Homo sapiens: one gene and its partner. The protein of the gene in region 1 purifies or fractionates together with the protein of each later gene. This does not show direct contact. Each region holds a gene or a part of one and is shown on either strand. Other genes may lie near its edges.

Region 1 (3,751 bases):
TACGATTAAGGAAGTATAAAACACATCTCTAACAAAGACCTAGTAGTACAGGATAGATTTGGCATTTAATGAACAATACAGGCAGAAACATCTTAGGAAGGGAAAAAAAATCAATGAAAGCCAAAGATCAGGGAATGCTTCATAGAAGAGAAAGGACTTGAACTATCCCTTGAAGGATTGATAGGATTTGGGTAGATGGAAAGAATAGGGCCCAGCCATCAGAGAAGGGGAAATGAAGTTAGAGGGGGAGAAGTCTGGTGGCACATGTGGGAGGCAGTGAGAAGAGTTTGGCTAGAGCAGTGTTTGTTCTGGCAAGTCTTGGGACAGGGGGATATAAAAGAGAGACTGGCAGCTGGAAGAGGACCTACAAGAAAGAATGAAAGGATCAGACACAAGTTCACAGTGGAGACCTGGAAAGCTGACCCCTCATGTCTTTGGAAAGCCTCAAAACCTCATCAATGGGATGCCTAAATTCCCCAAGCCTGTGACTACAGATGATATGGGGCTGCTTCATTTCTTCCCTCTTCACTTGTGTGTGTCTTCCAACAGAAGATATTTCACAGACAGAAAGAGCCTGTGCAGCTGGGAGGCATTTGATATTTGCCTATCTGAGGAATTCCTGATACCCTCTGTGAGAGAGAGGAGCAAACGTGTATCCTGGGGAAGAAATTTGGACCCCAAAGCATATAGCAAACTCTTTTCTAAACTGTCCAATAGAGCCCTCTGCAATGACTGAAGTGTTCTCTGTCTCCACTGCCCAATAGAGTAGCCACTAGCCACATGTGGCTACTGAGCACTTGATGTGTGGCTGGTGTGATGAGGAAATGAAATTTTCCATTTCATTTAAATTAAATGCAAATTTAAATAGCCACATGTGGTTAGTGGCTACCAAGTTAGACCATACAACTCTAGATGTCGGGAAAGCTACAAACCATGTTATCACATACATTCCTTGCAGAAAATTCAAAGAATCTGTACTTCAAGAAGTTTGCAGAAATATAACACCTTCCTGTTTCTTTCCACATTCCAAATAACAAAGAAACTTATAACCAGTCTTTCCATAGAATCAAAGAAGAATCATGTTACAGTGGAACCGCCATATCCATCTGTCCTTAGAATCCATTCTGCCAGCCCCATTCTAGTAAAAATAACACTGAATAATGGCACTGAAGCAGGCTTGATATAACTTGGGCATTACATATATTGTCAACATTAAATTCAGCTTTAAACCTTACACTTACTGGAAAAGAAAACACAAACCACGCTCACCCTTTTTCTGTTGAGGGTCCAATTCAGGTCTCAAATTTCATTTACATAATAATGAGGCACCTAGCACAAAGGTGGACATCTAATAGGAAGGACCAGTATGTAAAAAATATCTCCATCTATCCAACCATTCATCCATCTATCCACCCATCTGTCCACTCATACATGTAACCCACCCAATCAGCCAGCCAGCCATCTATCCATCCATCTGTCCACTCATACATGTAACCCACCCAATCAGCTAGCCAGCCATCTATCCATCCATCCACCCATCTATTTATCCCCTGAATCTACTTACTGACCCACAAAAAATAGTTTTTCTTTCATTTACCCAGATAATGAGAGCTTAATAGAGAACAGATGAGCAGGTGACTATGTGATACGTTATTGTTATTATTATTATTATTATTATTTTGGGATGGAGTCTTGCTCTGTCATTCAGGCTGGAGTACAGTGGCACAATGTCGGCTCACTGCAACCTCCGCCTCCTGGGTTCAAGCAATTCTCCTGCCTCAGCCTCCCAAGTAACTGGGATGACAGGCTCCTGCCACCACACCCGGCTAATTTTTGTATTTTTAGTAGAGACGAGGTTTCACCATGTTGTCCAGGCTGGTCTCAAACTCCTGACCTCAAGTGATCCACCCACCTTGGCCACCCAAAGTGCTGGGATTACAGGCGCGAGCCACTGCGCCCGGCCAATACATTATTTTTAAGAGTATGCTTTCAGATTAATCCTCAAAATAGAATGAAGAATAAGAATGAGGAAAATTGTATGCATTAACTAAACGTAATTTTAATTAGTCAATATTTATTGATCACCCATTTGGCACAAGAAAACTTGAGGGGCACTATGGAAGATTTAAGAATATATTGAAAATCTCTGCCTTCAACATTCTTAATAATCTACCTAAAAAATGTAAAGCAATGAATATATGAGAGGCTAAAATAAACAGACAAACAAAACACTTCCAAACAGCAATATAAAAGGTGTCACAAGATAATTCATGTCTCAGATAATAAGTCTGATATTTCAAGAGGGTCAGGAAATTTGAGCTAGAATGGCTCAACTTAGGGCTTTAAGGAGGAGATTTGAATCAGATTCTGAATGATAGACAAGAAGATAGAAAAAACAATCACAAGATTTTAGAACTTGAAGGGACCATAGACATTGCCTAGCTCGACTCCATCATTTTATAGATGATTAAACTAAGGTCAGAGAGTTAAGTGACTTAGTCCCACTTTCTCATACGGGTAGTAATGGCAGGAAAATGTCTAAAATGCAGGTTTGTTGATACCCATTCCAAGCCCAAATGCCACATGGGATGAGGAATACAGTCTGTATTTAGGAAAGGAGAAAGCATTCTGGAGAGCGGGTGGGACACAGCATAAGCCAGGAAACAGAGCCAGGAACACATCAGTGCAACCACTGTGTATGAGGATATCAGTGTGTGTGTAAGGACAGAAAGCATGGGAGGAGAGGGAGGATGGGGATCAATATTGAAGGTGGTTGAATGCAAACCTACAACTGCTCAGCTGTGCAAATCCCCAGAATTCTGGTTTCTGGGACTGCCTTGAAGTCTCCCTTTTACCCGGTGATGCCAGTGTAAACTTTTCTAGAAACTTGATATTCTTTTCATATTGACAAAGACTCGAATTCACCCGGTGAAGGGGGGAACTGCAGAAGGGAAGCTGGAATGAGGACTGGCAATGCTGGGCAATGTATAGGGGGCAGGGATGGATGGTTATCACTATGTGCCCCACTCATGCCTCAGAACCCTGAATTCAGTAGATTTAGGACAGGGCCTAGGAATCTGTATGTTTTTAAAGCTCCCCTGTGACTCTGGTGATCATCTGGTTTGGAGGGTCTTCTAGTTCATTCACTTTTTCACCAATCTACCTAATACAGACTACCACCTTGAAAACTGACAATATTTAGTAAATATAGGCCCCTATAACCCAGCAATTTCACTCGCAGACATATATCCAAGAAAAATAAACACTTATGTTTCCCCAAAGACATGAATAAGAATGTCCAGAGCAGGTTATCATCATCCCCAAACTAAAAACAACCCAGTGTCCATCGGTATTAGAAGGAATAAATAAACCAAAGTGTATTCATACAATGGAACACCACACACAATTAAAAAGAACAAACCACACTGTTACACGTATTAATACAGGTGAATATCACAGAGATAATGATAAGCATAAGAAGATAGATACAAAGGAGTACTTGCTATATGATTCCATTTATATGAGATTAAAGAACTGGCAAAAATAACCTATGGTGATTGGAATCAGAATAGTGATTGCCTCTGTATGGGGGTATTAACTAGGAAAGGGCATAAGAGAAACTCTGGGGGATGCTGGAACTGTTCTATATCTCCATCTGGTTATGCAGTTCTATAGACATATGTAAAAATATATTGAGCTGTTACTTGTTCAGTTTACTGTGTATATGGATTACACCTTGTTGAGAAGAAAA
Region 2 (3,751 bases), on another chromosome or scaffold:
CCACTGTGCACCCCAGTAAGCCACCAAGGTAAACTGCTTGCCTTGATAGTCTCTTTCAGCACTCTGCACTCTACACACTCTTGAATGTCAGTTAGGTGCTGTTATGTGGGAATCTACCTGCTTACCTAATAGATATAGCCTGGACACAAAGTTCTCTGGTTTATGACACTCCCATTGTACAGCTGCCTCCATAGCTCCTTGAAATTCTGGATCAGGGATTGGACATCTGACAGGTAGTTTTGACTGCTTGGTATCACAGAGTTCAATCCAACAAAAGGAAGACATGTTCCCTTGTGTATAATGAATCTGCAGATCACTTATTCAAACTATAGTAGTCTGAACTCAGATGCTGGATGTCAGGTCCCCTCAGGATTGTCTTCCTGCGTCTTGACTGCAGCCACTCCTACACAGGGTGATTTCCTGGGCTGGAGCCAGTTTGCAGGACTATGAGACTATATAGACTACAAAGCCTAGCTAGGCCCCAGGTCGGCGGCAGAGTAAGCCCCACAGCAATGCGTTAAGCCTTCATGAAATGAGTGTTGAATGAATGAGGTAGTGATTCAGTGTATATTTGATCCACTGCAATAGGTGGGAAGGGGGCAGAGGCAGCTACTTCCTAAAATAACCCTTCTTCAGACTCTTAAAGAACTGATCCTTGTTTTGAATTAAAATCTATCTTCATTTAACTTCCAGTCCTTTGCCCTACAGATAATTCGTAGCGCCACATCAGTTCTACCCATTCTTTCACATGAAGACAGATGTCATGTTCTGAGTCATCTTTCTTCGCCTCCTTCCAGCAGCCCTTATCTGGTGGCTCACATTTGAGCGAGCTCCAATATGTCTCTGTAGAATCTCTCTCTTCTTTTTTCTTTTCTTTTTTTTTTTTTTTGAGATGGAGTTTCGCTCTTGTTGCCCAGGCTGGAGTGCAATGGCGCGATCTCGGCTCACCGCAACCTCCCCTCCCGGGTTCAAGCGATTCTCCTGCCTCAGCCTCCCTAGTAGTTGGGATTACAGGCATGCACCACCACGCCCGGCTAATTTTGTATTTTTAGTAGAGACAGGGTTTCTCCATGCTTGTCAGGCTGGTTTTGAACTTGCGACCTCAGGTGATCCGCCCGCCTTGGTCTCCCCAGGTGCTGGGATTACAGGCGTGAGCCGGCCCGGCCTGTAAAATCTCTTCAAAGTGTGGTACATGGAGTGCAGTACTCCACCTGTGGCCTGACTGATATGCAGTACAATATTATCACTAAATTGCTACAGACAGTGTGCTTTTCATTGTTGTCACAGAAATGTATTTGGTTAGTTATATTTGTTCATATCTCATCTGACTTTCCAGTCTTCCCTCACTTTGTACAGTCATATTTGCCGAGTCAAGTAAAAGTTATAACATTTAGGACACAATGCCCGACTTACTATAATTACCATTATTATCTTAGGATCATTACAAAACAGAATTACCACTTAGCTCTCAGGCCCTACCTCCTTCAGCCTCAGAAACGTTAACGCTACCTTGCATTGCTGCTTTTAGCACCGCCCCTAATAAGCCCCGCCCCTGGGGCCTCCGCGGCGGGAGCCTAGCGTCCGCCCCACCCACCCCGAGCCCGAGGCGGGGCTGTGGATGTAGACGCTGATTGGCTGACTGGGGCGCAGCTTGATGGCGTCGGGCTGGAGAGCCGCAGTCCCGGCTGCAGCACCTGGGAGAAGGCAGACCGTGTGAGGGGGCCTGTGGCCCCAGCGTGCTGTGGCCTCGGGGAGTGGGAAGTGGAGGCAGGAGCCTTCCTTACACTTCGCCATGAGTTTCCTCATCGACTCCAGCATCATGATTACCTCCCAGGTGAGTCACCGCCTCCCGCCCCGACACCCGTCCGCCTCCCTTTACCGAATCGCCCTCTCCGGTCCTCCGCGGTGCGGGCTGGTCCGGGGTCTCGCTCCTCTCTTACGCGTCCTGCGCTAGTCACTCTGGCACCCAGAGAGGGTGTGCGATTTGCTGCGGCCGGTTCCCTCAGCCCCGGCTGTCAGGAGACTGGCCTGCGGCCGTCCGCGTCCCCACCCGGCATCCATCCCCGGAATTTCGGTCCACTTTTGGAAGCGGTCCGCCGACCTCCAGGCTAAGAGCCGGCGCCGCCAGCTAAGGCGGCGGTTCTAGGAGCTCCTCGAAGCTTCCGGGCTGCGCCAACTGATCCTGGACTGGGGAAGCCTGTGTGGTTCTGGGCGCGCGGTGTGCGACGCGCCAATACTGGATACTGAGGACACGTCAGTGCAGGCTTTGCTGTTAGATGTCAAATCCTGAATCCGGGTGTGGAGAAATTTGCTGCTTCAAAGTATCAGTATAAGGTAATACCTGTGCTTGAAAGTATAAGGTTTCGTTTTTGCACTGACACCTCGTCCTTTATCCTCTGCTTAGTTACCCACCTTTTCCGGATGTTTTTCTGACCCTCATTTCTTCTCCATTGGCCACCTTCATTTGTTTGTACAGTCAACAAACATTTATCGACCATTATATAAAGCTCTGAGCGTAAAAACATGTAAGACACTGTCTCTGCTCAATAGAAGTTTCGTCTAGTTAGCCTCTTGCTTTTACCATGTAATCTATTGTTAATTATTGTTTCTTCCTAGCATTCATCATAGCACTGGCATCATTTATGTCTGTGTTTCTGATTTTGTTTTTTGAGATCCTGCCTTGTTCATAGCTGTATCCCCACTTCCAAGTGCAGGCATTCAATAAATAATTGTTGGCCAATATTTGTGAAGCTCAGACTGCCTGTTGACCTTCTTCCCCCCATCTTTCCAATAAAGATTTTGTGTGTGTGTGGTTGTTTTTACTTGTTCTTTCTCTCAAACGGCAAATAACAGAAGCAGTTACCTTTGGGGGCTTAAAGTGAACTAAATTTGTGTTCTTTGATTCCGTTTTTGTATTGCTTCATCCTAATACTCGTCTCCGTAGAGCGGAGCATTGTCCTTTTCTCTTCAAAAACTTGTTTACAATATTTAAGAAAATAAGAAAGAAGGAAAAGCCATCCATAATCCTACCACTCTAATGCAATAGTTTTTTCATTTTTAAAATTTACCACCTTTTCTATAGTTTTCATAAGTATTGTTTTTATTGGCTGCATAATATTCAAATGTATTAATGTAAAAAAACCTAGACATGTAACTCTTCTGCTTAAAACCTTTCTAAGACTACCCAGTGCCCTTGGTGACAACTCAGGGTTATTTTTAGCCTTAGTACCAATTTAAGAAAAATAACAATATTTAATTAGCTTTTCTTTTCATTTAGAATAAAGATAAGAATGTCAGTAGAAAATTGGCTTTGCATTGCAGCCTCTACGATTTTTAGCATGGATATAATTGATACGTTGAACCGAGGAAGTGGCTTTCTAATTTTGTATGCCTTATAATCATAGACTTTCACTTCACACATGCATCCACATGCAGTAATTAATTGTTAAACCTGGTTTTTACAAATGTGGAAGAAAGACCCAAAGATTCCTTTGCATGGAATGTTCTCTGTTCAGATATTTATGTGGCTACTTTATCATCCTTTCGGTATTAATAAAAATGTCGCTTTAGGAAGGTCTTACCTGACACCCTGCCCACAACCAAAGTAGCTTTCCATTTCGGCTGCCTTCTTCCTCATTTCCATGTTTTATTTTCTTCTTGGCATTTATTACTATGGTTCATTTGTATATTCATGTGTTTGTTATCTGTCCATGAGGTCCAAGATACTGTCTGTCTTGTTCTCTCCTGTATT

The links.
Region 2: the proteins of GRPR (region 1) and GPR89A purify together in Homo sapiens (affinity purification with mass spectrometry, with the first as the bait; 2 studies listed by BioGRID). This does not show direct contact.

Annotation. Positions count from the first base shown.
Region 1 is NC_000023.11:16,126,445-16,130,195, reverse strand, and holds part of GRPR (gastrin-releasing peptide receptor), read right to left. Parts: intron 1-3,751. UniProt on the Homo sapiens protein: Receptor for gastrin-releasing peptide (GRP). Signals via association with G proteins that activate a phosphatidylinositol-calcium second messenger system, resulting in Akt phosphorylation. Contributes to the regulation of food intake.
Region 2 is NC_000001.11:145,606,342-145,610,092, forward strand, and holds the start of GPR89A (Golgi pH regulator A), read left to right. Parts: upstream 1-1,646; 5' UTR 1,647-1,792; coding exon 1,793-1,834; intron 1,835-2,276; exon of another isoform or gene 2,277-2,334; intron 2,335-3,751. UniProt on the Homo sapiens protein: Voltage-gated channel that enables the transfer of anions such as iodide, chloride, bromide and fluoride which may function in counter-ion conductance and participates in Golgi acidification.